Regions from separate parts of the Homo sapiens genome. Here all the other regions are reported to be linked to region 1. The links are microRNA targets in miRTarBase. Many come from high-throughput screens and were not tested one by one. Region 1 holds a microRNA gene; each other region holds the end of a gene's coding sequence.

Region 1 (7,952 bases):
AATCACTTGAACCTGGGAGGCGGAGGTTGCAGTGAGCTGAGATTACACCACTGCACCCCAGCCTGGGTGACAGGGTGAGACTCCGTCTCAAGAAAAAAAAAAAAAAAAAAAAAATCTATTTGAAACCCAGGTGGAGATATCATGTAGGATATAGCAGTTTGGAAATCAGGAAGGAGGTCTAAGCTGGAGATTTAAATGTTATTTAAAGTGGTGAAAGTAGATGAACTCATTAAGGAAATAAGAGAAAGAGAGAAGACAACCATAGACTGAACCCTGGGGGATGTCCACATTAAAAGGTCAGAGTGAGGCCAGGCGCAGTGGCTCATGAGCATCATCTCAGCACTTTGGGAGGCTGAGGCGGGCGGATCACCTGAGGTCAGGAGTTCCAGACCAGCCTAACATGGAGAAACCCCGTCTTTACTAAAAATACAAAAAATTAGCCTGGCGTGGTGGCGCATGCCTGTAATCCCAGCTACTCGGGAGGCTGAGGCAGGAGAATAGCTTGAACCCGAGATTGCACCACTGCACTCCAGCCCGAGCAACAAGAGTGAAACTCCATCTCAAAAAAAAAAAAAAAAAGAGGTCAGAGCAAGTGAGCAAGAATCAGTCAAAGGCCAAGAAGGAATAGCCAGTGAGACTGGAGGAAAACAAGACAGCATGGAGAACTGGAAGCGAAGTGAAGAAGCTGTCTCAAGGGCAGGGAACAATTTATTTACCATTGTCAAATACTGATGATGGGTCAATTCAGGTGGCTAAGAATTGACCACTGGATATAGCAATGGGAAGGCCATTTGGTGACCATTAAGTATTGAGGTTCATGGATATGAATTTAAACTAACCAAAACTTCAGGTTCCTGTGCTAGGAGCTATTTTGAGCTTATTCCTGGAGCTATAACAGGAAACCATACCTGTTGAAGTGGAAATACGACCTTTGCCCTCCCTCTCCATCTCAATCACCCGAAGGCCTCTTTCGACATAGCTCTGGAAGAACTGTGAGGAATTTTTCAGAAATGGTTCAATGTCAGCATCTGAGTATTTCTTCTTATATTCATATAACTCTGCTAGTCCCTGGTGAACAGGAAAAGGGAAGAGGTGGGGATGAATGTTAGTGTCCCTTTACCATAAAGCAGACCCCTATTCTGCTTAACCCTTTCACTCTCACCTCTTTAGTGTTTTCTTTAGAGCCAATCTTCTTAAAAATCTCAGCTAAGAAATCATTCACTTTGGCCTTTGATGATTTTTCATCCTGAAAAGTTGAAAGACATAGGAAGAATTGGTTAGACTTGAGTTATTAATTAGGAACTGATGGTTGGATATGAACAGAAAATATCTCAAAATCTGGGCCTTATTGGTATGTTCCTACAGATAACAGATGCACCGATGATGCAGGTCTTGCAGCAGAAGCACTAACATTCTGTGTTACTGAATGCCTCCAGTCTCAGATTTCCACCTCAACTTGATGGAGAAGGAACTGACATATTCTTTCCATGTTAAGCAGAACTAGCTATTTATCTGGTGACCAATGCCTTAGGCATCTTTCTTGGGGACCAAAAAACACATGGTTATACTTAGTTTAGATTTTAAAATTTCAAGGTGGAAATGGTTACTGCACCACAGCAGGAGACTGATTCAACCAGTCCATGAGCCTTCACCTTGGACCTTCGGAAAGCATATCCTGGTGACCTACACCTTAGATAAGATCACTTCCGGTGTAGCCTCATGTCCCTCAATCTTTCAAGTCAGGCCACTCACTATTCGAGATGCTCCCTTTTCTGTTTCCTTATCAGACTTGCTCCCAGTCTGGTCCATACTGTGCTTCATCATCCGGCAGAGATGGGCCTCCAGCTCAGACTCGTTTTTGTTGTCGATCATCGTTAGGTGGTCCAGGATCTGAGGGAGACACATGCATGACTGATAGCACTGCCATTTCCATGATTTTCTCTCAAGCTCCCTCAGAGACCAGTTGCGATTCTTACTCACCTTGGGCCCTTTTAATTTGCATAAGGTGTGTAGCAGGGTCTTTAGGGTCCTTATGGGAAATTCACTTTTGCATTGCTTCAGTTTCTCTTTGGGGAAGACCTTCATGAAAATGTGGATATCCAGAAGAATTCTGTCTAGGTTAATGCTATTGATGGTATCAGGCAACAGTCGAACCATTCTCCAGAGACACTATTGAAAAAAGAATAAAAGAGTTAGGAGTGACTGAAGAATGAGGATAATTTGTCACCATTCATCTTCCCTAAGCTTTGAGCTCACTTCTAAAAGATGGCCAGGGCTATAAATGTGGCACATCATATCTTTCAAGTTCAGCTGCTAAAACATGAAAATTTTTAATCACTTCTACCATGACACCAGCTGAAGTGTGTCCAGTCATTCATCTAATCATCCATCTCTACTCCTTCCCACTCCCCAGAGCTAGGGGCCATCATTTAACCTGGTAGAAATTCTCTCTTGGGTTTCCTTCGTTCCTGAGAGTAAAGTAGTTCATGTTGCTTAACCAAATCTAATGCAAGGGGACAAAATATCTGATACTAATTCAGTGTAATAACAGTATTACAATGTTATAAATATGTTCATTTGGTCTCTTTCACAAAAGAGACCAAATATCATAGGGCTGTAGATATCTTTTTCCCCAAAATAAATGAAATCTGTTTCAAACTTCTTTCCTTTTGATCCTCAGAGAATTAGTAAAATATTTACAAAATATTTCCTCCCTTTCACTGTTTGAGGCCACGAACTGTTTAGGCCTGAACTTAGAATATAAATTGTAGGAAGGGAAAAACTGAAGACCAATTCATATATATATATATATATATATATATATATATACACACACACACACACACACACACACACACACACACACACGTGTATTATATACATATATAACATATTAAGATATACATATATAATACATATATACATATATATAATACACATATATATAAAAAACCATATATATATTTTTTAAGAGATGGGGTCTCACTGTTGCCAAGGCTGGAGTGTAGTGGTATGATCAAGCTCACTTCTGGGTTCAAGTAATCTCCTCAACTCAGCCTCCTGAGTAGCTGCTACTATAGGTGCATGCCACTGCACCTGGCTAAATTTTTAAAAATTTATTAATATTTTTATTACGAAAAATATATTTTCAGGTGTGACTTGGTTGATTTGAGCCTATGTCTTTCTTAGCTCCAATTCCTCTTTCCCCATACTTTTAACAAAGTGATTGCATCTTTGAAAGAAAAGAGATCAAATCATTTCAACTTCACCTTCATAACAAGCTCTGAGAATTTGGGAGAACTGGCTGTTGCTAGCAGGCTGTCTTGGAGCAAAACAAGTAGGGCACTGGAAGAAAAACCCAACACAACAGCATTAAGTTTCAAACCTGCATTCCAATTAGAATCAGCAGTTGAAAGGGCAAGTGAGATTACTCTATTCATCTAATAAACTGAGAGGTCATGGATCAGGAATTGTCCTGGACTACCTGACATTCAGTTAAGAAAATAAACATTGTTTAAGCCTTTTAAGTCACCACTTGGTAAGTGTAAGGTTTGTGACTCTATTTTTCATTGTCATTGGTAGCTGAGAAAGAATAAAATGTACCTGAAATGTACAAGAAAAATGTAACTGACAAACTTTACAGTCCTATTATAGAAAATGCATGATATTGGCTGGCTAACTAAGTATTTACTAGTTTTAGCTATGGTCTCAGGCTAAAATACCTTTGGTCCATGATGAAGAAGAGTAATAAATCAACTTCCTAGGCACACTTAAAGTTTTAACTGATATAGTTATAACTGATGTAGCTATAACTTTAAGTGTGCCTAGGAAGTTGATTATGATTGTTAGGTTGCCTAGGAAGTTGACTTACGGACATTATGGTTTCTAAGTGTAAACAAAAGCGAGGATGCCCCAGGCTCTATTGGCTGAGAGTACAGATATACCTCAGGATGTTGGTCTGGTCTGACTTCTCCAGAACCTTCACCACCAAGAGGTTCACAGAGCGGATGACCTGTTGTCCTTCCTCAAGATCTTCAATCCGAGAATCCAGCATTAAGGTGATGAGGCCATGCATTAGGTCTTTTAGTACTCCAGTGGAGGCCTCCCGGGCAAGGCTCTCTATCTGAAACAGCTATCCAGACATACTTGTGTCAGGGAGGTGTAAAACTCAATATAGAGAGTAAAGAAATGTGGGTGGCATATTCTGATAAATATTCAATTATGTTGTATTTTTTTTTTGAGACGGAGTCTCCTCTGTCGCCCAGGCTGGAGTGCCAGTGGCGTGATCTTGGCTTACTGCAAGCTCTGCCTCCCCGGTTCATGCCATTCTCCTGCCTCAGTCTCCCGAGTAGCTGGGACTACAGGCACCCACCACCACGCTGGGCTAATTTTTGTATTTTTTTTTTTTAGTAGAGATGGGGTTTCACCGTGTTAGCCAGGATGGTCTCGATCTCCTGACTTCGTGATCCACCTGCCTTGGCCTCCTGAAGTGCTGGGATTACAGGCGTGAGCCACCGCGCCCGGCTATGTTATATTTGTAAAAATTCAGAGTATTAAAGAAAAAACAAAATCACCACACTCCCCCAAGCCTCTAGTAATAGGCAAAATTAATCGGTGTGCTTCTAATTGTGAAATTTTTTGTTTTTTTTTTGAGACAGAGTCTTGCTCTGTTGCCCAGACTGGAGTGCAGTGGCACGATCTCGGCTCACTGAAAGCTCCGCCTCCTGGGTTCAAGCAATTCTCTGCCTCAGCCTCCCGAGTAGCTGGGATTACAGGCGCCCGCCACCAGGCCTGGCTAATTTTTTGTATTTTTAGTAGAGATGGGGTTTCACCATCTTGGCCAGGCTGATCTTGAACTCCTGACATTGTGATCCACCCGCCTTGGCCTCCCAACGTGCTGAGATTATAGGTGTGAGCCACTGTGCCTGGCCAAAGTATTTGTTTTTACATGTGAAATTATTTACTGTTATGCCAAATTTGTAATTTCTGGCTAGTTGGTGTCATTAAGTCCACCCTTTTAGCCCCAGTTTAAGAAAGAATATTGAAATCTGAGTGAGAATGTCTTTATTATCCTTATAATCTGCTCTACAGGTAAAACATTAACAAATTTTTTCCCTTTTATTTTTAGTTGACATGTAATAATTGTACAAATTTATGGAATACAGAGTGGTATTTCAACACATGTATACAATGTATACTGATCAAACCAGGCTAATTAGCATTTTTAATAGAACCATACTTATCTGTGGAAAGGCAGCTATGGCCTACCATGCCTGATGAAGAAACTGGCCGGAAGAAGCTAGGTAGTCTGTAAGCATGTTACTTTATATCCTAACAGTAAGGTGGGATGGAGTGTAGCCAAACATCCAATGGAAGCCATCAGTAGCTTGCTATATACAATGCATGTAAAATTCTACCAAGTGACACAGGACTCACTGCAACATCTGCATGGACTCTGGCTTTTGAACCTCTGTAGGCTGAGAGATTGATGGGAAGCTGAAATTCTGCAGAGGTGCCCTTACCGAAATCATGTTGCCAATGATACAGCTATACAACTTGATGATCTCGTCCTTCTCCAATTTCTCATCTGCCATGTGTGTGTTGTAGATGAGTCTTAGCTGCATAAAAGTGGCTATCAGAAACTGATCAATATGGCCGGACATGGCTTCAGCTTTGTCTTCCTGTCTCAGGACCTCATCGATCTGATAACAAAAATTTCAAGATATATTTTCCAAGCTTCATACTTCTAAAATAGCGGAAGACACTATATGAAACTTCTCCATAAGAATATTTATTAGCAAAGTACTTCTAAAGTCTTACCTTAAAAAAAAGCCCATTTACTTATTTATTTTATTCATTTATTATTTTGAGAGAGAATTTTGCTTTCACCCAGGCTGGTGTGCAGTGGCACGATCTTGGCTCACTGCAACCTCCACCTTCCGGTTTCAAGTGATTCTCCTGCCTCAGCCTCCTAAGTAGCTAGGATTACAGGCGCCTGCCACCACGCCAATTTTTGTATTTTAAGTAGAGACGGGGTTTCACCATGTTGGCCAGGCTGGTCTCGAACTCTTGACCTCGTGATCCACCCACCTTGGCTTCCCAAAGTGCTGGGATTACAGGCGTGAGCCACCGCACCTGGCCCCATTTAAATATAAATAACTAGTCCTTAGGGATTCAGTCATTCGGCAAATATTTACTGAGCAAGATACTAGATACATTAGTCACAGGTTCGATTCTAAGAGGCTCATTGTCTAGTTCAGGGAATAATAATCCTTATGTTTGGCTGGGCACAGTGGCTCACATCTGTAATCCCAGCACTTTGGGAGGCCAAGGTAGGTGAGTCACTTGAGGTCACGAGTAGGAGATCAGCCTGGCCAACATGGTGAAACCCCATCTCTACCAAAAATAGAAAAATTAGCCTGGCATGGTGGTAGGCACCTGTAATCTCAGCTACTCGGGAGGCTGAGGCAGGAGAATTGCTTGAACCCAGGAGGCGGAGGATGCAGTGAACCGAGATCACGACACTGAACTCCAGCCTGGGTGACAAAGCGAGACTCCGTCTCAGAAACAAAACAAAAATACTTATGTTTAAATGTTCAATTTATTAAAAAGAGTGCTTTTTAGACTCTTCAGACAGGGCTGATATTAAGATCTCCATTTAACAGATGAAAAGTGAGGCTCAGAAAGATCAGACTACTGGTCCAAACTCAAAAACTCAGCTTTCTCACATACTGGTCCAGTGTTCTGTTGCAGTACACTGGTTGTCACTAATGATAATAAGGCATTGTTTATATCTAATCTATTGGCAAGTTCTGTGGATTCTACTTCCAAAAGAAACCCTGAAACCATGACTTCCTTCCTCTTCACCATTATCATCCTAGTGGCACATAATATCTTTCATATAAATTTTGGCCACAACTTCCTAAAAAAATTGCTGAATTCACTCTTGCCATGCATATAATCTTATCTCTAGAGCAGCCAGAGTAATTTCTTCCACAATTAATACAAACAAAAAACCTGCAAAGGTGAAAAAAAAAGTACATTACAGAAACGTTGAAAGGGTAGTAAAGGAACTCTTTTATCCTGAATCATTTAAGAGTAAGTTGTCAATCTGATGTTCCATACCCTGATACTTTAGGGTATACTTATTAACAACAAGGACATTCTCCTTCATAAGTACAATAAAACCATCAACATCAAGAAATTAACATTGATGTTACTACCATCTAATCCTCAGACCCCATTCCATTTTCTCTAATGACCTCAATTATGTCCTTTAAAGCAAAAGACCAGTCGAGAATCATGCACTGCATTTACCTGTCATGTCTCTCAGTCTCTTTATAGTGTAGGACAGTTCTTCAGTGTTTCCTTGACTTTCTGGACCTTGAATTTTTTTTTTTTTTTTTTGAGACAAAGTTTCATTCTTGTTGCCCAGGCTGGAGTGCAATGGCACAATCTTGGCTCATAGCAACCTCCACCTCCCGGGTTCAAGCTATCCTCCTGCCTCAGCCTCCGGAGTAGCTGGGATTACAGGCATGTGCCACTATGCCCGGCTATTTTTTTTTTTTTTTGTATTTTTAATAGAGTCAGGGTTTCTCCATGTTGGTCAGGCTGGTCTCGAACCCCTGACCTCAGGTGATCTGCCCACCTCGGCCTCCCAAAGTGCTGGGATTATAGGCATGAGCCACAGCGCCCAGCTTTGACCTTGAATCTTTATAAAATGTCCTTAATTTGTATTTCTCTGATGTTTCCCATGATTCAGGTTATGCAACATTAGAATTATCAGCAAAGTGATGTGGAACTGTCACTGGATCCTATCAGTGTAGCACATAATTTCCTTTTATCACCCTGACGCAGTGGCTCACGCCTGTAATCCCAGCACTTTGGGAGGCCGAGGCAGGTGGATCACCTGAGGTTGGGAGTTCAAGACCAGCCTGGTCAACCTGGTGAAA
Region 2 (7,952 bases), not on the chromosome of region 1:
CAGATTAATAGGAGAAAAGGCATACAAATATATTAATGTTCACAGGAGTCATACAGAATGCAAGAACTAAATAAATGGCTGGATGGTTGATGCTTTTCTACCATTTTGAAGTTACAGAAAGAATGGGGGATTGCAGGATGGCAAAACTGGTTATGGGAGGGAGAGAAGAGGCCTGGCTAGGAAAGATGGTCTTGTTATGGATAAAACCTCACATAAAGTATAGATGGTAAATGTTTCTTTCAGACCTTTAAGAGTGTGATACTCTCAGTTAATCTTCCCTAGATCCCGAAAAGGGAGGGCCTCAAAGAAAGTCCGGCTGCACCACTGCAGATTCTCTACAGATGCAGATCTTCCCCTACAAAAGGCAGATTTGCAGGGCTATTTCTGTTTGCAAGTCCTCTGAACAGCCATCTCGAAATATGTCAAAGAAGTGTATTCGGAGGTGAAATATTTTGGTTTCCTTCGACTGCTGTCACACCCTAGGGGGTGGATGAAAAAAAAAAGTCCACCCAGACAATCTGTTTTTTTTTGTGAAAGATCACTTTACAAACTAGAAAGTACCATGTAAACATAAAATATCCAAGTGTGAAATCTGAAGTGAAACAGGCTGGATGTAGATTTAGGTGTCTCCTGATGAGTGTGAACACTGGGAAAGTGATGGTACCTCTCTGGGCCACCACCTCCACGTCCCTAACTTCTGCGGATATTGTGAAGATTGAATGAGCAATGTGTGTGTGAAGCACTTTACATAGGGCCTAGCACTGAGTCAACATCCCAGAAATCATACATATTGTTATTGTTTCATTTTTCAGATATTTATTTGGATTGGCAAAGATGCTAATGAAGTTGAGAAAAAAGAATCTCTGAAGTCTGGTAAGCTCAATCGATGGACCATTATAGCAGTAACCGGGCACCATTATGACCGAGTGTCTGGCTTGCTCTTTGCCACCATGTCTTACAAAAATACATTTCAAAATCAAGAAGTAGCTTAGCATTCCTCCTCAAAACTAAAGAGTAATGGGATTTTTTGAACTGGAGAATTTCCAAATGGGCACAAGAAAACAATATGTTTTGTTATCTAATCTAGAATAGAATTATATCAATTTAATCTGAAAACTTAAATTAATTTCAACCCTTGTTTTATTATAAGAGTAAAACCTCCATGACTGTGATAAGCCAGATTTTTTAAACTTCCTTTTGACTATGCTGTTCTTTCTGGCACAATTTTCCTTTTACTGAAACGTATAACAATAATTATGCCACAAGGACAATTCCATAAAACTTGGAATTCTTTCAGGCATTAATGAGATTCACATGTTGCCTTTCATGGCAGACGAGAGAAATCAAAAAGAAATTGTATTTGTCTACCTGGTCAATGGAAATTTATTACTTTGATTTGAAGAATTGTATTCGAAGAATTTTCATTTTCAATGTAGCCAATATTTATTTGTTCTTCTGGAAATTTAATTCATTACTTTTATTCGAAGAATTTTCAATCTGCAGTTACTTTAGTTTAACCCAAACTAACTGAATTTATATGTCTTTACAACTTTTTTTAGCCAAAATGTACCTTGAGACAGACCCTTCTGGAAGAGACAAGAGGACACCAATTGTCATCATAAAACAGGGCCATGAGCCACCCACATTCACAGGCTGGTTCCTGGGCTGGGATTCCAGCAAGTGGTAAATTGGTATTTGTAAAAAGCAAACAAACATTACAAGGCAGTTATCTCATTGCTGTTTTGGGAGAGGAACGGGAAAAGCTTTTTGCTTATTTGTCTTTTGAAAATTAAGGCTGGGCGCGGTGGCTCACACCTGTAATCCCAGCACTTTGAGAGGATGAGGTAGGCGGATCACTGGGGTCAGGATTTCGAGACCAGCCTGGCCAACATGGCGAAACCTCGCCTCTACTAAAAATACAAAAAAATTAGCTGCGCGTGGTGGTGCACGCCTGTAGTCCCTGCTACTTGGAAGGCTGAGACAGGAAAATTGCTTGAACCCAGGAGGCTGAGGTTGCAGTGAGCCAGGATTGCGCCACCACACTCCAGCCTGGGCAACAGAGACTCTGTCTCAAAAAAAAAAAAAAAAAAAATTAACCTCAACCAAACGCCTATTTTTTAATGCTTAGTTTTGGCTTGAAATTCTTCTTCACCTGGAGTTTTCTTACGTTAATACATTAAAATAACCTGAAGGAAACTTTCGTTATGGGCCAATATTAGCTCTTATGGAAACTGATTTATATCTTTTTTATGACCTTTCAAAAGTAAAATACTATGCATAATCTAGAAAGATTTGTCAGATAGGAAATTTTATAATGCATTAGCCATTAGTCAGAGTTGTTTTTTAACATGCCAGAGAAAAAGTTGTAATGCCTTGGAAGTTATTCTCTTTTCTATAGATTGTGTTCAAAAGATGTGTATACTTGCAATAAGGTTTATGTTAAGGTGGCTTTAACAATTGGTTGCTATTTTCCTTCTTTAGTCAATATGACTTTGATGTCATTAACTGCTAAGTGTTATTTTCTAAGAGGAATTTTATCTTTTTTTTAACCTTATTAAAAGCCTTTGAAAACACAGCTCTTTCATGACAAAATGAATTGTATTGTTATCCACTTAGATACATGTACATGTACAGTACATGTTTAATATCACAGGAGATCAAAAAGACAATGCACAGGGGAGTATCCCAGGGAGCAGAGCCAAGTTCAAGTAAGTTAACGATATCAAGTTACTTACTGGCAGGTAGCCACTAGAGAATCTTAGCAATTTTTGTCCTGCAAGATTTCAGCAAAGCTACAGAAAAGTGAGTTTTTATGTTTTCCATTCTTCCCTTTTCTAAGTAATAATTTTTATCGCAGTTACCCTGATTCTATTCCATTCCATTCTATTCTATTCTATTATTTCATTCTATTTTATTTCCAATATACCATTGTATATCAGTATATACTGATACACTGAGTGGCAGTTGCATTATCTACTAATCTATATAGGTCATTGAAAAAGAAGAAGCTACGTTAGAACCCATGGAAAGAACTTTGCCTCATGTAGAGATTCTAGATTCTTAGCCAAAAGCTCAGAATTGTTGGGCCCTAAAGGATGAACAATGTAGGGTCCAACAATTCATCCCACATGAATTTTTCTCATCCTTCATGTGGAATGAAAAAACTAAAGAGACAACTGACTTACCACACAAATGGACTATGGTAGAAGCTGCTGTCCCTTAGTATTGAATATCTCTATTTTCTTTTAATCATAGAATTCACTGATATTTTAGCAGATAATGTGGCCGTCCAGGCAGGCATGAGATTTCTCAGCCTTACTTCAACTTGATTATGACCATGTGACCCAATTCTGACATTTGCCTAAAGGAAAATTTACCTAAAAAGGCGTTTTCTTGCTATGGCAGTGTAACCTGTACTAATAAATATAGTGCTAGTCCTGCATGCAACAAAAATGATGTAAGTAGACATTTAACATTTCTAGGAATGTAATTGAGTGAAAAATAATTTTTAAAAATATTTATAAATATCTTCTGGGTCAAGCTGAATATTTTTTGAAGGATGATGAGAATAAAATGATTTAATAAGTAGTACTTTTTCACAAAATTAGTAAAGGTCAAGGTGAGTGGCTTAGGGTACACTGTATTTTACGATGTTTCTCTAGTTTAGCCAGTGGTTTTTCTCATCTCCAATTTATAGCACAGGCCGAGGCATATAGTAGGGTCTCAGTTAATATTTATTGAATGGCAATATCAAAAATGAGATCAGCAGCAAGATGATAAGGCAGAATAAAAGTTGCTGAGAGCCTAAAATGATTATTCAGTTCTGTTGCAGGGTTTTAACCTGCCCAAAGGATGGAAAAAGAAGAACATAAGCATAATTTCTGAATGCATCACGGCAAAGATGCATGTACTCATGAAGCATAAAATTAAAAATATGATACATTCACTACATGAAAATATGATATACGGTTTTTCTTCAGTATCCGCGGGAGATTGGCTCGAGGAACCCCATGGATACCAACATCCTTGAATGCTCAAGTCCCTTATATAAAACGGCATAGTATTTGCATAAAACCTATACCATTCTCCTGTATACTCTAAGTCATCTCTGCGTTACTTATAATACCTAATACAGTGTAAACGCTGTGTAAACAGTTGTTATACTATATTGGTTTTTTAATTTGCATTACTTTTGTATTGTTGTATTATTTTATTGTTTTTCCCCAAATAGTTTTGATCCGCAGATGTAGAACCCACAGATATGATAAATCAACTGTATCTAGTACCCAAAACAGATGAGTAACTTAGAAATTAATATGTAATACATACAGCTAATGTTATAGCTACTTAAGGAATTCCTTTCACTGAAAAGAAACTCTTACAAATCAATGAGTCAACAACCCAATGGAAAAATGGCCAAAAGACATGAATAGAAGTTCACAGAAAAGAATGAAAATGACCAGTAAATAATGAAAAGATGTTCTAAGACACTCTTAATTAAATAAATTCACAATAAAATAATCATACTTTTATCTATCTACCAGATTAGCAAATGTTAAAATATTAAAATGTTAGTGGTCATCAAAATGTAGGGTTACAGGTTCACCCATACACTGTTAATAGATGTATAAACTGGTCAAAACTTTTTGATCCATAGCACAGTATTACTTTTGTAAACATACACAAAAAATATTATATATTTGCCAAACGTATGTACTAATCTAAAACCAAACACATTAGACTAGGTACATGTGGAGAAAGAGATACAGGTGTTCCCTAGCAAGTTAATATGCTTGTGTCTCTTCAAACCAATATATTGGCATATTTATCTAATATTTAATCAGAAGAAAGAAAGAACAGAAAGACCCAGGAAGCCTACTGTTAGTAGAGGTCAGCCTCATCTTTTCTCTCTGATTCAAGAAATTCATACTCAACTCAGTCAAACAGAGGTCCTGCATTTACCTCTTGGTGCCGGAGAGCCTTGGTGAGCCATTTAGATCCTCTGTATCTTCTCAAGCACAATCCTCAGTGTTCTCTTCTCGTCTTAGATAGCTCATCAAATAATATTTCCCACCACTTATTTCTAGCAGTTCTGGTAAAGAGAATGGCCTTCACATTGTATTTTGAACAATGTTTTGGCCTCCAGTAATGATTAGGAACACACTATAAACATAAAACATCAGTCCACTTAACTCATTATTCAGTCATCAAGCAATTCTTGTCCCAATCATTCTCCAAAGCTATATACTGTGAATTTATACTGTTGTGTAGTGACACAAGCCCTTCTGCTGAAAAAGTAGGTAGATAATTACTTTGAACTGAAAGAAAACACTTATTTTATTTTCTTTTAAACCTAATTTATTTTAAACCTAATTTATTTATTTTAAACCTAATTTATTTTAAACCTAATTTATTTATTTTAAACATTTATTTTAAACCTAATTCATTTGAACTGAACTTGAATTTAAAAGCCTACAAATGCCCCGCATATGTAGAATTATCATTCATTCCGTGTTCTTGCTCTTGGATAAAACGGACAACTCAGAGAAAAAACTGGCTTATAAATGCACTTCACAAAAACTGTTAGAAAAGTAGCCATTAAACCTGTAAAAAGGCCGGGCGCAGTGGCTGACGCCTGTAATCCCAGCACTTTGAAAGGCCAAGGCGGTTGGATCACGAGGCCAGGAGTCCGAGACCAGCCTGACCAACATAGTGAAACCCCGTCTCTACTAAAAATACAAAAAATTAGCTGGGCGTAGTGGCGGGCGCCTGTAATCCTAGCTACTCGGGAGGCTGAGGCAGGAGAATCGCTTGAACCCGGGAGGCGGAGGTTGGAGCGAAAGTACGCGCCACTGTACTCCAGCCTGCGTGACGATGAGAGTCTCCGTCTCGGGGGAAGAAAAAAAAAACCTGTAAAAAGTGGCTCAACTTTAATATTCATTAGGAAATGACTAAAATCAAATATTTTACTTGGTAATGCCAAGTAAAAATACAGGAGAGGATATAGTGAAACTGGAGCTTACATCCACTACTTGGGAAGTATAAATTGATACAATGGGTTTGAACAGTTTTTGTATTTTCTACTAAAATGAACATACACATATCCTATAATCCAGAAATCCCACTCCATGGTGTGTACCCAACAAAAATGCATACATGTGTGTACTAAAGGATATAATATGATTTTTTTTTTTTTTTTTTTTTTTTTGAGATAGGTTCTCACTCTGTTGCCCAGGCTGGAGTACAGTAGCGATCTCTGCTCACTGCAATCTCTGCCTCCTGGGTTCAAGCAATCCTCCCACCTCAGTCTCCCCAGGAGCTGGGACTCTAGGTGCGTGCCACCACGCCCAGCTAATTCTTTGTAGAGATGGGGTTTTGCCATGTTGTCCAGGCTGGTCTTGAACTCCTAGACTCAGGAAATCCACCTGCCTTGGCCTCCCAATATGCTGGGATTACAGGCATGAGCCACCGCATCTGGACACGAATTTTTAAGTTTTATATATGTGTGTGTATATATATATATATATATATATATATATATATATTTTTTTTTTTTTTTTTTTTTTTTTTGCATTGGCAAAAAAACAAAGATATTGTTTAGCAATTTCCTTGTATAATGCAATCAGTGGAAGACAAATCAGAGGTATTATTTTCCCTTGGGCCTTTGCAGCCTGTGTTGTTTTTCTCTTTTTCATATTGATGTGAAAAGCAGCCAAGTATTATTTGACAACATCAGTCCCTTATTAAGATGTTATTTCTAGTTTATAATTGACTATGGCATTTGCATGCATTTCATCATGTCTCCATTTCTTCGGAATGATAATTTCTAATATACTTTTCTTCTATTATAGGAATAAGAATTCAGTAGTCATATTTCCTGTTGCCTATAAAAAATTGATGCTTTAATTTAGTTAACATGACAAACTCCATCTTATTTAGAGAGATTATTTTTGATGTTATTATAATAAAAATGACACCTTTACTAAAAATGTCTCATCATAAATTGTTTTCCATTATTTCTGTGCTGATTGCAAACAATACTGAATTAAAATATCCCTGCAAGTTCACTGTGACTCAATCTAAGGTTTTAATAATTCATGAAATAAAACTAATGTTGATGTTATCCAAATCATTCTAACGCCAACTTCTAGGTAAACAGTAAACAAGAATAAGCAAATTTGAGTTTTCCTAATTATTTGACATTGTCATTAGCTTGTGATCCTTAGATGGAATATATTTTGCCAGATCTCACCTCCCAGGGAACTGATGAGCTTTAACTGGAATAGTAGTGAGAATGATAGAGCAGGGCCCTTAACTCCTTAGAAAGGTCAAAGGAAGAGGTGAATGTGGGCAGGGTTTCACTGGAGTATTGACACACCAAAGATGCTATGTAGGTGAAAATCTCTCCTAATGCATTCCCTTTCCAACGAACCTGAGCCTGGATTCTTCAGTAACACAATGCCTTCTGAGAAACAATGTTGTTCCACATTTTAGAGTTTTGGCATGCATAATGGAGTTTATGGCAGAGTTCAGAGGATACAATGAAACAAGAAAGGGAGGCAACTGATGTTGTTTGATTATCTCCATTATTTTGAAGGAGCCAGGTGCTTGGGGAACCTGGTTGTACAGAAAGGTGATGCCAAGACTCTCTTGTATGATTTTCCTCTCTAGCTTGGGGCTGCACCCTCTGCTGTGGGAAGGAGTCCTCAAGGTATTAATATACATCCTATCATTTATTTTAGATACAGATAGCATTAGAGTTTATCAGTAAAGTTGGGCAACTCATGGAATATTACGAGTAGAAATTGTAATTACTGTAGAATGTATAGTGTTTTGAATGGCTATTGTATTTTTCAGCATACAAATTCAGAGGGGTGAAAGTAGGCAATGACACCACTATTTATGTTTTTTGTTGTTGTTGTTTGTTTTTGTTTTGTTTTGTTTTGAGATGG
Region 3 (7,952 bases), not on the chromosome of region 1:
ACACAATCTAAAATCATGCTACAAAAATAGTGTTATCTTGTTTAACTAAATGTACATCTTTTTTTCCAATTCCATGATTGACAAGAGTGCTTATGCGACGCATGGAAGGCACCAGAGGTGAAGTGATTATTTGCCTTAAAATATACAAAGAATTGCCTACTTTGAAAAAAAAATAGTCATACTTGTAAATAAATAGTTTAGTGTTTCTGCCATGGGTTCCTGAACCCCTACAAATTTCAACATATACAAATAGTTTCAATTCCTACCATTCTCTTAGAGGGAACCACGTCAAACAAAATCAAGTTAGGAAAAGCACTGATTTTATCCAAGTAGGTCAATTTGAGGCAAGATTCAAAAACTCATTTTAAAATGGGTTACAGAGTGAAAGAGTTGGGAACAGGCAGCCCCCTTTGGGCCTGGGTCAGCCTACGAGTCCATCCCAGGTGTCCTGCCCTCACATCTGCCAGCCCTCAGGCCGGCCAGGTCTCCCTTCAAACCCTGAGTATTTGCCTTCCTCACTTCTGCGAAGAGGGGAACAGAATCTTGAAGCTTGCAAAATCGATTCTGGAAAAAGCAGGCAAGCAAAGCAGGGCCTGTGGGGGGAAGCAGCGTGAGTCAGGCCTCACCCTGGTGCAAGGGCACCAGCAGGTCTCCCTCCTCTCCCCTCCTCACCATCCCTACGCGTCTCCTCACCATCCCTACGCGTGACTGACTTTCCTGATAAAAATGGGATACTTCCTACTGGGTGTCAGCACTGTCATCCTAAGGCAACTCAGACGTGATAGTTTTAGACTATGATCAAATCTCACACAAACCATTATCAGAATCTTGTTTCACACCATCTCTCTTTTCAGGCAGTTATGAAAAGAAACTCTGACCTGGCCCTAAATCCCATCAGCAAAGCTGACTAAGGTGGTCTGAGATATGTTCTTACTCCTAAACTCAAACTTTAAAAGTTTCAATAGCTCCCTGGGGGTCCAAGCCAAAGGCTCCCTGGCCTTTGTGTATTATGCATCCCAAAGAAAACACGCCACCCCAGGTGTCTAGATAGCAAGTCACCTGAATTAAAGCCTCAGCATAAAAAAACAAACATAGACAACAAACTTACCCTATGAAATAGATACACAGTTCAAGGACCCATCATCTGAACTTTTCTAGGCAAGTTGCCAGTGATTCAAACTCAGCAGGTTTGTGGGTGATTTTTTCCTTACTGTTACGTTTGTGGAGTAGGAAAAACTAGAAAGGAAAAAAAAATCCCAAAGGTTGAAAAACTGTATCCAAATGGAAAAAGAATATATTCCAGACAAAAGAAGGGAAAATACAATAGGACCCACTCCGCTTCAAGCTAAAGAGTGTACAAAATGCCACTCACTTGCATGAAGAAGAATTAAACAGAACATTCACTTTCGGAAGAAAATTTTTCTAGACCTAACAGATATTGACGGTATTTTCTCTCACAGTTTCTAAATAAAAGAAACATAAAAGGTCAAATATTTTAAATTACTTTCTCAACCAGACAGTTCTTGTGACTTGAATGATATCTGCTGAGAAGAGAAGAAACACAAGATTCTACAAAGCGCCAGGGAAGTTTACAAAGCTAAAAGCTGAGGGTGTCAGGCCTGCGTCCTGTCTGAGATGGCAGCCAAGCCAGCTTCAGAGTCACCTGCTGGACCCACATGTTCCTGAGCCAGATGCCAGGAGCTCACCCACAGGACGGGAAAGACCTGTCCCCAGCATCCCACTCTTGCCCTCAAGCTGACTGTGGAACGCGAGACAGCTTTCAAAGACAAGAGGACAGGAAGGCAGTTAACAAAGTACACGTTTCCAAGACAGCCTGAGCTGTCTAGTGCTGATAGCAGACAGGTGGGGTGTTCCAGGCCACTGCTTCCTCCCTTATCTCCCAGACCTGGCCGTGTGTGGACCTCACCAGCCTACCAAGCTGTTGGGCCTGGACGTGGGTGCTGATAAAATAAGACAAACCTGGAAAAAACCCTGGATTCTGCAACTTCACTAGGAAATAACAAGGCACCTAGAGACTTCACAAGCTAATGGCAGTCCCTGGAGCAGGAAGCAACTTGTTATTCTGCTCAAGAGAATCCACCAGCAGCTCTTGGCCTAGAAACTTTTTCCCCTTTCTGATACCTGTTTAACGTCATTATTACTCTGTAAACAAGATCTGGAGAAGATGACAGTCAGGCAGTGGCACAAAGACTTCATGACTGTTTTGTTTTGAACACAGATGAGACAATAGGAACCCTTAAATCATCACTGCCTTGCAGAATCACTAAATTGTTCAGGTGTCTCCATGCTCTATTCATCTCCTAGGTGCTAAGACCAACCCACAGAAAATCTGGCACAGAAAGGGATTAGACCTCAGTCCACCTCTCAGAGCACATGGATAGGTGACGGGTTTCTCATGTGAATCTACAAGAAAAGGTACGCCTGGGCCACACGCAGGACATGGCACCCACTAGGGTTGTTCAGGTCTCATTCACTGCAAGCAAGAATTCACGTACATGAGTGCACAAAGGTGTTGGAGCTTGGTCTCCTCAGGCTTAACCCAAGGCTGACTCACTAGGACAGCTTCCAAGAACCACAGATGTAACTGCAAACTTGAAGAGAGTCAGAATGTTTTCAACTGAGTCACGAAGCTGTCCCAGAAGCACCCGACATAGGGTGGAGGTCAGACACATTCCCTGGCTGCCCACAGGCGTGAGCCTTCCTGCCAGGGGACAGTAACAGGGCCCGAAGGGCTGGGGGTGCCGCTGGCTTCCCAGGGCCAAGCGCTCAGAGCTGGGCCGGACTTGCCCATGCTGGCTTCAGCTCACATTGCCAAGGAAGATGTGTATTGGGGCTGTGCAGGCTGCCACATTCTTGCTTTTTCTGTAGACAAAAGTCACCTCCCTCGGATGGCTGTTTACTTCAAATCAAACTTCTCTGACGAGATTTTAATCTGAAACTGCATCTGTTCTTCCCAGCTTTATGTGGGGCCAACAAGTATCTCCAGCCTTTCATGACTGTAATCCCTCTTTAAGGCAGGGAAAACATATTTCCCTCCCATGCCTTCAGCAGTGTGAAAGAAGGATATCAAAGAGAATCAGAGGGAAAAAATACCAAATCCACCCAATCAGTGCCAAAATAAACTTTCTCTGAGGACATCAGTGTTTGCATCCATCTAAAACCACCAGAGGTTCCACCAAATGCTTGAGGGTTTCAGCTGTACAGTGTCCAGGAAAAAACCCAAATGCACACAGCAACTGCAGTTTCTTCAAGTTTTGCTTTAAATGTGAAAACCAATATCGTCCCACCAGAACACTGAGAAAAACTAAGGTCGCTCAGCCTTCAAATGCCCCAAACCAAACTGATATTGGTCCCTATTGAAACTATTAAACGCAAAAACGCTTCCTTCAATTTGCCAAGAGGTCATTTTAAGGCCCCCAGATATCGATTGTCTTCTGTTTGCATATAGAGGCAATATAAGAAAAATATAGGCGTCTTCATATTCACCTTGGATAACCCTATTCCCTCCAGAACTTTCGTCACCACGTGGTCTATACATGATGACATGTGCAACCACACATTACATCAACTAGAAAGCGTCCATAGCACCACTTCCGGTTCTAGTGGGAGTTAATTAAATACAAGGAGAACATTTACAAAACCACCGAGGAGCCTCACGGCACAAAGGATATTAAATAGTTACAGGGACATAAATAATTCTGAAGAGTCTATCACGAAGATGCAAATTAACTCCTAAGTCACTCTCTGGCGTGTCATCCTTTTTGGTCATTCATCTGCATTTAGTTTCAGTGACTTCAGAACTATTTCTTGCAGCTGACAACATATCCTCAGGAGGCCAACCACCTGCCCCCCTCTTTCACCAGATGATCAAGTGGTTTTACTGAAGTGAGCTGGGAAAACTTGGGCAACAAGCCCACCTGAATGGTGTTCTTGTTTTCAATCTCACTTCAAAGATGGCCTTTTTTGGGGGCCAAGTAACATGATTCCCAGCAGGAGATTTCTGATAAAGCTCAGGATGGTCCTTCCAAGTGGGCCCCATTTAATGCAAGGCTGAGCCTTTGTGGCCCTATTTTAAAAGGAACTCTCAAAGAGAGATAAGCCCAATTTTGACTTTGCAAACACACTCAACAGACCTGACAGGCAGCACACCCAGCTGTGAGCTGGCCTGGCTGCCCTCTCTGTGGGAGCAGAGGGGAGACGAGTTGTTAACAGGCTAGCAGGGTCAGCCCCTGAGGCAGACGTGGTGCTCAGCCACATAGCCTGGGACACTGCTCCCAACTCAGATCGTACTGAAGGTGTTGGTGCAGGAAGCTAACCCCAACTCCGACCCCCAGCCCAGCAGTGTTGCCTGATCAACACTGTGAGCTCAGATGCTGTCCTTTTCTGGGGAATGAGACGCCACATGTCCATAAGGTGACGCTTTCTTGCACAGACCCCCCGCCGCCCCCTCGGAGTTATTTATTACACAGTACGCTGCTAAAGCTGTCAACATTTGTCAGCACTTGATCTTGGGGATTTCTCCATGTTACTGCAAAATCTTCCTGCCACAGTAAGTGCTTTTTGGTGAGGGCTAAACACAAAATGTTAGAGCTAAAGTGAGGTTTGTAAACATTAAAAACAGTTCAAAGAGGGAAAACCTGACAAACTAAAACAACTTTTTTCCATAAAAGATATAATTACTCTCTAATTTTTTAAAAAAACTACTGCATCATGGGGACTCACTGAACTCATTCACCACACACAATAATCTTCACTTTATCAAGAATCAATCAGAAACCTTAAGTAGCTAGGATTTTTCCCCCCAACAACTCCCAAGAATGATGTCTACAGTTATGACACTGAGGCGCCCAAAGCGACAATTAGTGCCTTCTGAAACATGGGTGGAAGGGTGTGTTCTGGTGCAAATTCAAGTATTTTCAAATCCTAGACGAATCTGCTCAGAATCATTTTAGAACTCTTTGCAGGCATTTAGAAAATTAGCACACATCCCTAAAATAGAGGGGTGTGTGTGTGCATGTGTGCGCGCACGCGTGTGCATGCTGTTTTTTAACACAAACACCTCCCACCTGCGGTTCATGAAGCCAGCAAATGGGCAAGTGCTTTGGCTGGTGGAGTAGGCTTGTTTCTTTCATGGCTTTTACCTGAGAAGGTAAAATGACTGAAAATCTGCAATTCAGCCTCAAAGTATTTAGGGTAGGCAGGAAACTGGAAAACAAGATAGTCCCCATAACAAGATGGCCCCCATATTCCTGGAGAAGAATCTGGGGTTCAGGAAGGTGATTCATTTGAGGAAGAATCAAGTGATTTCTCAGCAGAGTAGGAAACAAAAGGTCACCCTTCCTTGAGTCAGAGGTCCCTGGGAGCCATCCTAACAGGACATCAGCTTTCCCCAGCCCTGTGGCCTTTGGGCTGGTGCTGGCTGCCTGGGGGCCCTGGCATGGAAGATGAGGAGTGGGCTGGATCCCAGCACGCAGACTCAACACTGACTTGGAGCAGGTGGTGCCTAAGGCTGCCTGAGAACCACTGCCGACTGACCGTTCCAATGCTGTCCCTTCATTCCTTCATATTTCCCCCCTCTTAGCAGCCCCATTTAATCCAAAGTCTTGTTACAAATACACACGACAAGGTGGCTCAGAGTCAAAGGAAGCCTGTGCTTCAGGGCAGGTAAGACCTCAAGTGGACCTGGGCAGTGACGCCGGCTGCTCCACAGCCCCAAACGCTGAGGAACGTGGGCCTCCCAACTCCACCGCGGACCCGCCCACTGGGCCACTCGGGAAACCCTTTCCCAAAATGAACTTTTACCAAAGAGGACAAAATTCAACTGAATCACATGGAAATCTGACAGGACAAGGGAAAGAAAACTTGACTGAGAGACAGGCACGAGGACGGGAGGGAGGAGGATCCAGGCAGGTCCTCACGTGTCCAGGCGCTGGATCTCAGGGCGACTGTCCACATCCCTGGACTCCGTGCGGGCTCGGATGTAGTCATTGGTGCTCTGCTGGCGGACGCTGACTCTCCATTTCTGCACTGCCAGGAATGTGTTCACTGCATATGCCGCAGTCGCCAAGAAGCCAAATATCTAAAAACACACCAGCACAGTTAGTCCTCGGGCACGTGGCCTGGCCCCTCAAGGCTTCTGTGGTGACCCAAGCCACATGCAGCCCCTTCCTGCTCTGCCAGCTGATCATTACAACCCTGTGCCTTCATTCCTTGATCTCTTCCCCCTCTCAGCAGCCCCATTTGATCTAAAGTCTTGTTTCAAATACATATGACGGGGTGGCTCAGAGTCAAAGGGAAGCCTGTGCCCAGCCCTGCTGGATGTGTGGCTGTCACACCACAGCTGAGTCTCTAGTCATGTGACACACAGAAAATCTTGCCTGACCTAAAGACAGCCTAAGGTTTCTTTTGAAGTATTTTGGACGTATAAAAAAATAAATCACAAAAGTACCTCTTTTACTGCAACTTCAGGGCCTCTGGTCCCAGATGAGAAAATACAGTGCAGACAAAATGTAACATAGACAGAAAATCAGGGTTTCGCATGTGGGTCCCAAATCAAGCCACAGGGCCAATGTTCCACATCACAGCCCCCATCCCACACCTGCCTCTCATGGGGCAGCTCCAAGTAAGCAGCTCCAGAGTAAGAAGCACAGAGTTTTAATTATTAAGACTTACAAATCGCCTGAGTGGCACCTGGGAGAGCAGTTCGTTTAATCATTTATAAACCTTTTAATCCCCCCATTACAAAAAGGATAACTGTTCCTCATAAACTGAGAACAATACAGAAATGCAGGGCATGGAGAGGGGAAGTCCTACATTATCTGGTCCCCACCTGCCGTGGCATTTCCACCTTGAAATGTCATGTGACTGCTAAATGGTGTCATGACTGCATTCAAGAACCCTCCCTTCCCCAGGCAGATAAGGCTCTTAGACATCAAGGACTGTGTTGGAAACGAACCAAAGCAGGGGTTCTTGAACTTGAGAGCACATCTGTATCATCCAGAGGGTTACTTCAAATACATTTCTGACTCAGTAGCTCTGGAGCGGAGCCTAAGGATGTCTAACAGATGCCAAGGCTGCTGTTCTGGGGCCCATACTTTGAGAACCACAGCACTGAAGGGACTGGGACCCCCACTGGCCCAGTAACATCATCTTTAGCAAAGAAAAGCCACAGGAGGGGGAGCAGGACACATGCCAGGGACAGGCGAGCAGGTCACAGGAGGTCCCCAGATCAGCTTGCTTTAACCATTTGAGTTTGCTTACCACGGCAGCAATTTCTGCTCCGGCTCTATGGTTTAAAGCAGCCAGTACGATTGAAGCAATAAAGAAAAGGAAAGCGCTGAGTCCAGTGTTGACCAAATCCTAAAGGGAGAGACAAAATAAACCAAGTGAAAAGAACCATTCCATCTTTGCTCTAAAAGCAACTGGAGAACTTTCAAAATAAGACCCACGATACCCAACCTCCCTGGTGGCTCCATATTTCAGTCTCAATGTCACAGGGTTACTGGTCACACAAAAGAAGGCAAAGTTAACAGTTTATGACACTACTTGATAAATCACCACCACAAAATCTACATTTTCACCAACCCCACTACCCTTTCTGAAGAAATAGTAACCAAAATTGCTAACACTAATTACCATTTAGAGGTCTGGTGCCATCTTTTAAAAACCACACTCAAATCATCTTGCTATGGACAAAGCTCCCCAAGGATCCAAATGTACTAAAACTGGTGAAATCCCTCCAGCATTCCCTGCACTCACATGTGACATTCAAAACAAACTTTCACACAGAGAGCACACTTAGCCAGACTTCACGCTCTTTCTCAAGCAGTCTTTCAAGCCTCTATGTCACTAAAGCCTGGAGAATTTTCTCCTAAGCTTCTTGCACAGCATGCATCCACCGTTTCACAGATTTAGCTCGTCTTATTTGTAGA
Region 4 (7,952 bases), not on the chromosome of region 1:
AAGACGGGTCTTGATGTTTAATATTTAATGCATTAATGAGAAGCACACATTACTCTATGAAATTATTTTAATCGTTTGAAAACTGTTTTGTAGTACAATTGGCTTTCTTTAAAATCCTGTGTATTTTTTAAAAGCTTTTAAAAATACAATTTTGAAAAGGGCTCCATGGGCTTCATGCTGGGGCCAGAGGGCTCCCTGGGAGCTAAAAGATGAAGAAGCCGCGGAAATTCGCCATCTGGGAGGAGACCACCGTCGGGTGCCCGCCATCCCCTTCCGCCGGAACTCCACTAAAGAGGACTAGGTGTTAGCGCTGGCGCGGGAGGCCGGAGCAAGGTCTTTAAAGGTCTAAGGTGAAATTCCGGGTGGGAGCTCAGTCAAGCCTCCCCTACCCAACTGGGAATCAGTGCGCCAACCGGAGCACGCCCCCCAGGCGACACCGAGAGGCGCGGAACTCCCAAGCCTAGAGGGCGTCGGAAGTGCATCCCAGAGCGGAGCAGCCAGAGGGGCGGGGCGTCGCGGCGCTGGGGCCGCGCCCTCGGGTATCCAGAGTACGGCTCTTCCAGGCCATGTTGATGACCCAGGGTGGAAGCCATTGGAGAGTTTTGAGAGAAGAAGGAGGTATTTTTTTTTTTTTTTTTTGAGACGGAGTTCTCACTCTATCTCCCAGGCTGGAGTGCAGTGGCACGATCACGGCTCACCGCAACCGAGGGAGGTACATTTTAGCGGGATTTCTGTGAGAGGCATTCGAACCAGAGCGACTCCATTTTGAGTGAGGGCTAGGAAAACGAGGCCGGGACTTTTGCTGGGCTGCATTCCCAGAAAGTCAGGCATTCCTAGCCTCTAGATGTTTATGGTTAAGGGAACAAATTAATAATGTTTACTAAACAGACCCAGACTTGGGAGTGTCTAGATGTCCCCATATCTGGAGAACAAAGGCATTCCAAATTTTGCTTTAAAGATAATAATATCGATTCTTACAAAATATAATAAGAAAATTAATCCTTTATCACAGACCCTTGTAGCAGAGCACATCTCCCCATACTTACAGGTATGTATCTAGGGTGGACACTTTCCTCCGCGTTTCAGGAACACCCTACTCTGTCTATGGAGTAGCTGTACTTTCACTACTTAACTTTCTTAATAAACCTGCTTTTACTTTGCACTGCGGACTCGCCCTGAATTCTTTCTTGCGGGAGAGCCAAGAACCCTCCCTTGGGGTCTGGATCGGGACCCTTTTTCTGTAACACAACAACTATTGAGAAAAGAAGGTAGTGGTGCAAGAACAGATACAGAAAAATAAGTTTCCCTCCCTCTTCTTTCCAACTCTTCCATGCTCAGTGCCTCAGATGTGAGGGTCAGAAATTTGGTTATTAAAAACTCTAGGCCGGGCGTGGTGGCTCACGCCTGTAATCCCAGCACTTTGGGAGGCCGAGGCGGGTGGATCACGAGGTCAGGAGTTCGAGACCAGCCTGGCAAAAATGGTGAAACCCTGTCTCGACTAAAACAAATACAAAAGATTAGCCAGACATGGTGGCAGGCGCCTGTAATTCCAGCCACTCGGCAGGGTGAGACAAGAGAATCACTTGAACCCGGGAGGCGGAGGTTGCAGTGAGCTGAGATCGCGCTAATGCACTCCAGCCTGGGCGACAAGAGTGAAACTCCGTCTCAAAAAAACAAACAAGCAAACAAAAAAACCTCTAGATCACCCAGGCTGATATATGTCTAAATTTATGTTTGTCTAAATGTAAAGTTAAATGAGAACAATACTACTCAGCTCATAGGGTTTTCGAAATAAAATTTTTCATGTAAATCACTGGGCACACAGTTTGGCAACAACACTTAATAATTCTCTTTTATTATAGTCAGAAACCTGATATAATTTGGTTATTCATCTTAATTTTTTGATCCAACAATAATTTATTGAACATCTACTATGCACCTAAGATGACAGCAAGAGGGGTGAAAAAGAATAAAAGTAAACAACTACTATGCACATCTATATGCACTATCCATATTCTCTTAACATCTTCGTAAATGTTATTATTCTTACTGGAAGCCTTTTCCCCACTCCTTGCTTGACCAGCTCCTTTCTGTTTTCATTTTGCTGGTCATATGTCAACATACTCCAGGAAGTCCTCCCTAAGGCACCTTCATGCCCTGGCATCAGGGTTTGGGTCTCTTGCTGTGTTATAACAGAGAGCACACTACTGTATGGTGACCTATCTCTCTATCCCATTCAACTTTTTTTTTTTTTTTTTTTTTTTTTGAGATGGAGTTTCACTCTGTCGCCCAGGCTGGAGTGCAGTGGCGCCATCTCGGCTCTCTGCAACCTCCGCCTCCCCGGTTCAAGCGATTCTCCTGCCTCAGCCTCTTGAGTAGCTGGGACTGCAGGGATGCGCCACCACGCCTGGCTAATATTTTGGTATTTTTAGTAGGAGACAGGGTTTCACTATGTTGGTCAGGCTGGTCTCAAACTCTTGACCTCAAATGATCTGCCCGCCTTGGCCTCCCAAAGTGCTGGGATTACAGGTGTGAGCCACTGCACCAGGCTCTCATTCAACTTTGAGCTGAGAACAGGGAATATTTCTTTTATCTTTGATCCTAATCTGTTGTCAGGCATAAAGTGCAGATAAATGTTTGCTGTTTATCAAATAAAATGGATTGGGAATAGTTGAGCAGATGAAGGATGGTAATACGGCATGACAAAGTAGAAATGCCAGCAATTCACTATTACAATGGAAAAAAATGCTATTATGTAATTCCAGTTTTACTATATATGCTACTTACTGGTTTTAGTAAGGGCTCCATATGGAGTGGCCTGGGTCTCAGTTTTGTGGAGTAATCGAATTGTCTTTTTTCCTTGTTTTTCAGTGGCGATGTAAGATTCTGGGAAATATGAATCTTTTTTTCAAATCTTCAACAGAGCTTTATGCATCAATATGCTAATGAGGTAAATTGCACTACTAGTCATTTCCATAAAGTATCTCTAATTCTTTTCAAAACCTTGCAAAATAGATAATAGTTCTTGCTTTGTTACTGAGGAGATTGTGGCTCAGAAAGGCTAAGCAATCATCCAAGCTTGGCATTATTTACTGCCAACTCTCTCAGACCTCTTCACCGTTCCATACCATGTCCAAATCATCAACATGTTTTGCCTAGATTGCTGTGACAGCTTAGTCTATTGCTCATGCAGCAGCCATACTCACACACACACATATATAAAACACCTTAGATTGTGCCATTTCTTTGCTCGAAACTCTAATGGCACCAGGCATGGTGGCTGATGCCTGTAATCCCAGCACTTTGGGAGGCCGAGGCGGGCTGATCACTTGAGGCCAGGAGGTTGAGATCAGCCTGGCCAATATGGCAAAACCCCGTCTCTTCTAAAAATGCAAAATAATAATAATAATAAAATTAGCCGGGCCTGGTGGTAGGTGCCTGTAATACCAGCTACTCGGGAGGCTGAGGCAGGAGAATCGGGGGCGGAGGTTGCAGTGAGCAGAGATTGCGCCACTGCACTCTAGCCTGGGTAACAGAGTGAGACTCCATTTCAAAAAAAAATGCAGAGACACGGCCGGGCGTGGTGGCGCACGACTGTAATCCCAGCACTTTGAGAGGCTGAGGCGGGTGGATCACCTGAGGTCAGGAGTTCGAGACCAGCATGGCCAACATGGTGAAACTCCGTCTCTACTAAAAATACAAACATTGGCCGGGTGTGGTGGCGCGCGCCTGTAGTCCCAGGTACTCGGAGGCTGAGGCAGAAGAATCGTTTGAACCCGGGAGGTGGAAGTTGCAGTGAGCCAAGATCACACCACTGCACTCCAGTCTGGAAGACAGAGTGAGACTCTGTCTGGGAAAAAAAAAAAAAAAAAAAAAAAGCAGACACCAACACCTAGACTACGCTGACCATTTGAAAAAGAAATTACAGGTATAATAAGGACTAAGAAGAAACAAAATTGTTTGTATACACAGAATATATGGTTGTCTATGTAAAAAAAACAAACAAACCCACAAGAATATGCAGATACAAGAATGAGAGGTAGCAAGGCTGCTGGATACAAAAATCGAAATCAACATTAGCTAAAAACAGAAAATGTGGTAACTAAAAATATACCATACGAAGTAGTGTTAAAAAGCATAAAGTCCCTAGGAAATATTAACAAGAAGACCTTTATGGAGAAAATTATAAACTTTATTGAAAGATATTTCAAAGGCCTAAGTAAATGAAGAGCTGTACCATATTCATGTATTGGAAGACAACATTGTAAAGATGACATGGTTTACCAGATTAATCTATAAATTCAATACAAATCCAATCAAAATTTCAATGCTCTTGGGTTTGTTTGATTTATAAATTGTTGGTCTAATTCTAGAAGTAATATGGAGGAACAGTTGGCTAAGAATAGCCAAGACACTCCAAGGAAGAACAATTTTGTGGTGATACTGGAGACAGAGGTGAAATTGGTTACAATTATGACAAAATGTGGAGGCATCTTGGTTTTTATCAGACCTTTTCCTAAAGTTGCAATAATCAGGACTGTACTGTACTGCTACAAGATTAGACAAATTGATGTCAGTCAGAATAGAAACCATCAAAAGACCCACACACATACACAAAAATTTAATTTATGAAAGAGGCAGTGTTACAAATCACTGGGGAAAGGATGAACTTTTCAGTAAATAGTGCAGAGACAACCACTTCGAATATGAAAAATGTTAAGTTGAATTTCTAACTCATAATTTTCACAAAAATCAGTTCAGGACAGACTAAAGACAAATGTGAAAGGCAAAACTATAAAATTTCCACAAGGCAGTAAAGAATATATTTATGACTTTGGGTAGGAAAGGATCTCCCCCCAAACCAATTTGTATTCAGCTTTATATGATACTTTTTAAAAACATTTACTTTCAGCAGGAAATAGGCAACAATCTATAACATTTTACAATTTCCAAACTCCCCTCCTCCAAAAGTCACCGTAAAAGTTAACAAGATATGTCGTTGCTGTTTTGAACAAGAAAGATTTTCAGAGAGGGTGGACACTTCACATGAGGCATGTATGAGCTTTTCTCAGGCCCACTTTGACATGGAGGGACTAAAGTAAAACCAGCAGGATGAATCCACAAACTGAAAACAGGAATCTTGGCTCTTTTAAGTGACACCATCTCGATGTCATCAACAGAAAGCCTGAGTTTTGTTACCTAACACAGCTGATTTTAGGGTTGCCAAGGCCACATCAAAACTCTCGGTTTAAGGAAGTCAAGTCTATGCTGATGGCATCGGGGAAAGGGGAGACACGAAGTTTTGGTTCCCCACACTGTAAGGCTTCCGTGCCAAAGTGGCTGACACGTGAATGTCAGAGAATCTCTCCTGGGAATCAAGGGAATCAAGAACAATCTTCAAAAACCAGGACAGAAAATCCTATTTTCCCTTATTTCAATTCAGTTTCTGAGATACACCCTATTAGTGGTACTTGCCCTTTCCACAAAAGACAACAAGGAAGTGTCCTGTGTGCTAACAACATAACTTAAAAAAGCCAAAATTCTACACTTTTATAAAACTTGATTTAAAAAAATAGTATTTCAAACAGTAGAGTCACTATAAGTACAGAGCTCTCAAAAATGTACATTTCACTTGGCATCCCCAGTGCCTTCCGCTTTCTGGGACTGGAGTGTAGAGGCATCTCGGTTTTTTGCAGGGTTGTTCCCATCCTTTCCAGCATCTGCTTTCCCCTTTCTCCCTTTGGGAAGCTTCTCTCCCTTCTTTGCAGAGGCCTTTTTAGGCCTGGGCTCTGGTTTTGGAGGAGCTGGTTTAGCAGACAACCGAGCTGATCTCCTCTGTGGCTCATCCTTCACCTTTGCTTTATCACCTTTAGCATCTCCTTTTGCCTTTCTCTTGGGCATGGTAGCAGCAGTGTTCGCAGGTGGCTTGAGCAGTCCTGTTGGGTGCTTCTGTCCTCCTCACGCTGTTCCTGGAAAGATGTCTTTAACAAGACACAAAAAGCGTAAACCATAAAGGGAAAGACTGACGAATGTAAACGTTAAAAATCAAATTGACTATATTGTTAATAATTCGTGTATATCAAAAAAGATAGCATAATAAAAGTAAAACAATAAGTACCAGCTTGGCAAAGATATATGTAAAATATATAATGGACAAAATGTTAGAATCCTGAATACATAAAGCATTCCTATAGATCCATGAGGAAAGGACAAAATGAAAATTTTAAAACTATGGCAAAAAATGTTAACAGGTACTTCTTGGAAGCATGAGTGAGGAATAAGCACCTAAAAATATATAAGAAGTACATATTAAAAGCATAGGATATAACATTTCATATCTATCAAACTGAGGAAAACCAAGTTGTCTGACAATATCAAGGGCTCAGCTGATATGGAGCAATCAAAACCCTTATGTACTGCTGTGTGTGTGTGCCAATTAGTGTATTTGCTTTTGGAAACAGTGGTTATTTGTAAAGCACTCTGCAAACAGTGGTATTGTGTAAAGCAATTTTACTTCTAGGTGTTTACTTAGAGGGATTCTTGGAGGTGTGGACAGGAGATCTCCACAAGAATGTTTCTAGCAACACTGTAATTTCAAAAACCTGTAAATCACCCAAATGTCCTTCAATAGTAGAAGGGATGCATATATTTTGGTAGTATGTATAAAAGGGAATACCATTCAGCAGCAGAAACAAATAGATTACAGGTAGGTTCAAAAACGAGGATGAATCTCAAGAATATAATGCCGAAGAAAAATAGCAAGTTGCAGAAGAATATGTACACTATAGATCCATTTACACATGTAAAACTATGACATGTTGAGGCCACAAACATATAGTAAAACTTAAAAAAAAAGGGATAAATAAAAATTGGACAGTGGTCATCTCTTGGGAGTTGGGAAAGGGATGTAGTTGGAGAAGGCATGGAGGTTAGTCCAGAGATGGGGGAGGTTGCATTCTCTTCTTTAAACTGTAGGGGAAGCACATGGCTGGAGTATTACCTATGTCTTACACAGAAAAATTGTATGTGTCTGCTCAAGAATTAATAAAAGTACTAAAAAATGTGGGTAGCCCAGAGCACAGATTGAGAGCCACACAGGTAGGAAATGGAAAATAGTTTGAGTTTGAGTAATTAGGACTTAGGCCTAGGGCTGGCATTCATGGGCACTGTGTGACTTTTTTAAAGCTTTTGTCTATCATACCTTCTGCCCCACCCTTGAAAACATTTACTGGGAAATTCTGTAACCTTGTGAGTGGCCACCATTCTACAATGTTATTATTATTTTTTTAATCTTGTCTCCAAATTGCTCCAGTTTTTTTTTTTTTTTTTTTTTTTTTTTGAGATAGAGTCTCAGAGTCTCGTTCTGTCACCCAGGCTGGAGTGCAGTGGTGCGATCTCGGCTCACTGCAACCTCTGCCTCCCGGGTTCAAGCAATTCTCCTGCCTCAGCCTCCTGGGTAGCTGGGATTACAGGCGCACGCCACCATACCCAGCCAATTTTTGTATTTTTACTAGAGACAGGGTTTCACCGTGTTGGCCAGGCTAGTCTCGAACTCCTGACATCAGGTGATCCACCTGAGAATTGCTTGAACCTGGGAGGCGGAGGTTGCAGTGAGCCGAGATTGTGCCACTGCACTCCAGCCTGGGGGACAGAGTGAGACTCTGCTTCAAAAAAAAAAAAAAAAAAGGTAATGGTGCCACTGAGACATACAGTTCTACTGATCTAACTACACCTGACCTGCTCTCTTCTGAAGAAATCCTTGCCTAGACATTACATGAATTTATTGCTAATTTTTGTCTTTTTCCCTTTATTTCAAATGCAACATTAAGGAATCATTTTAACAATTTTTAGGAAACAAAAGGAGTTACTCTTACAATGAAGGAACCAGTGAAAATCACTTGGTCTAATGGTAGGGTGACTTGATTTATACCTGTTGCCCTAGTATAATTATT

Evidence for each region. Region 1 holds the annotated microRNA hsa-miR-5582-3p (UAAAACUUUAAGUGUGCCUAGG, at 3,760-3,781, opposite strand). A microRNA usually pairs through its seed, bases 2 to 8, with sites in the 3' UTR of a target mRNA and lowers its output. Matches are read on the target gene's strand: a 7mer-m8 pairs with bases 2 to 8, a 7mer-A1 pairs with bases 2 to 7 and ends in A, and an 8mer does both.
Region 2: miRTarBase lists SCIN as a target of hsa-miR-5582-3p. Seed matches in the 3' UTR shown: 8mer at 6,491-6,498.
Region 3: miRTarBase lists CMTM4 as a target of hsa-miR-5582-3p. Seed matches in the 3' UTR shown: 7mer-m8 at 5,879-5,885 and 7mer-m8 at 3,917-3,923.
Region 4: the mRNA of HMGN4 is a reported target of hsa-miR-5582-3p. Seed matches in the 3' UTR shown: 8mer at 5,554-5,561.

Annotation. Positions count from the first base shown.
Region 1 is chr11:46,749,366-46,757,317 of GRCh38, forward strand. MIR5582 (microRNA 5582) reads right to left here and starts at 3,827; the gene lies at 3,760-3,827. It overlaps CKAP5 (cytoskeleton associated protein 5), which reads right to left. Exons shown (of 44, transcript NM_001008938.4): 36 at 5,523-5,702; 37 at 3,945-4,132; 38 at 3,270-3,345; 39 at 1,981-2,169; 40 at 1,753-1,890; 41 at 1,163-1,246; 42 at 909-1,068.
Region 2 is chr7:12,651,029-12,658,980 of GRCh38, forward strand. It overlaps SCIN (scinderin), which reads left to right. Exons shown (of 16, transcript NM_001112706.3): 15 at 813-873; 16 at 1,560-7,952. The coding sequence ends at 1,687. Among named protein-coding and RNA genes, the nearest start is that of ARL4A, 33 kb to the right of the region's middle.
Region 3 is chr16:66,616,123-66,624,074 of GRCh38, forward strand. It overlaps CMTM4 (CKLF like MARVEL transmembrane domain containing 4), which reads right to left. Exons shown (of 4, transcript NM_181521.3): 3 at 7,282-7,380; 4 at 1-6,100. The coding sequence ends at 5,936. Among named protein-coding and RNA genes, the nearest start is that of CMTM3, 15 kb to the left of the region's middle. RefSeq lists an enhancer at 3,760-4,261.
Region 4 is chr6:26,543,156-26,551,107 of GRCh38, reverse strand. HMGN4 (high mobility group nucleosomal binding domain 4) reads right to left here. Exons shown (of 2, transcript NM_006353.3): 2 at 4,175-5,981. The coding sequence starts at 5,901. The coding sequence ends at 5,629. Among named protein-coding and RNA genes, the nearest start is that of TRA-CGC1-1, 6.4 kb to the left of the region's middle. RefSeq lists enhancers at 190-239, 224-758, 1,018-1,972.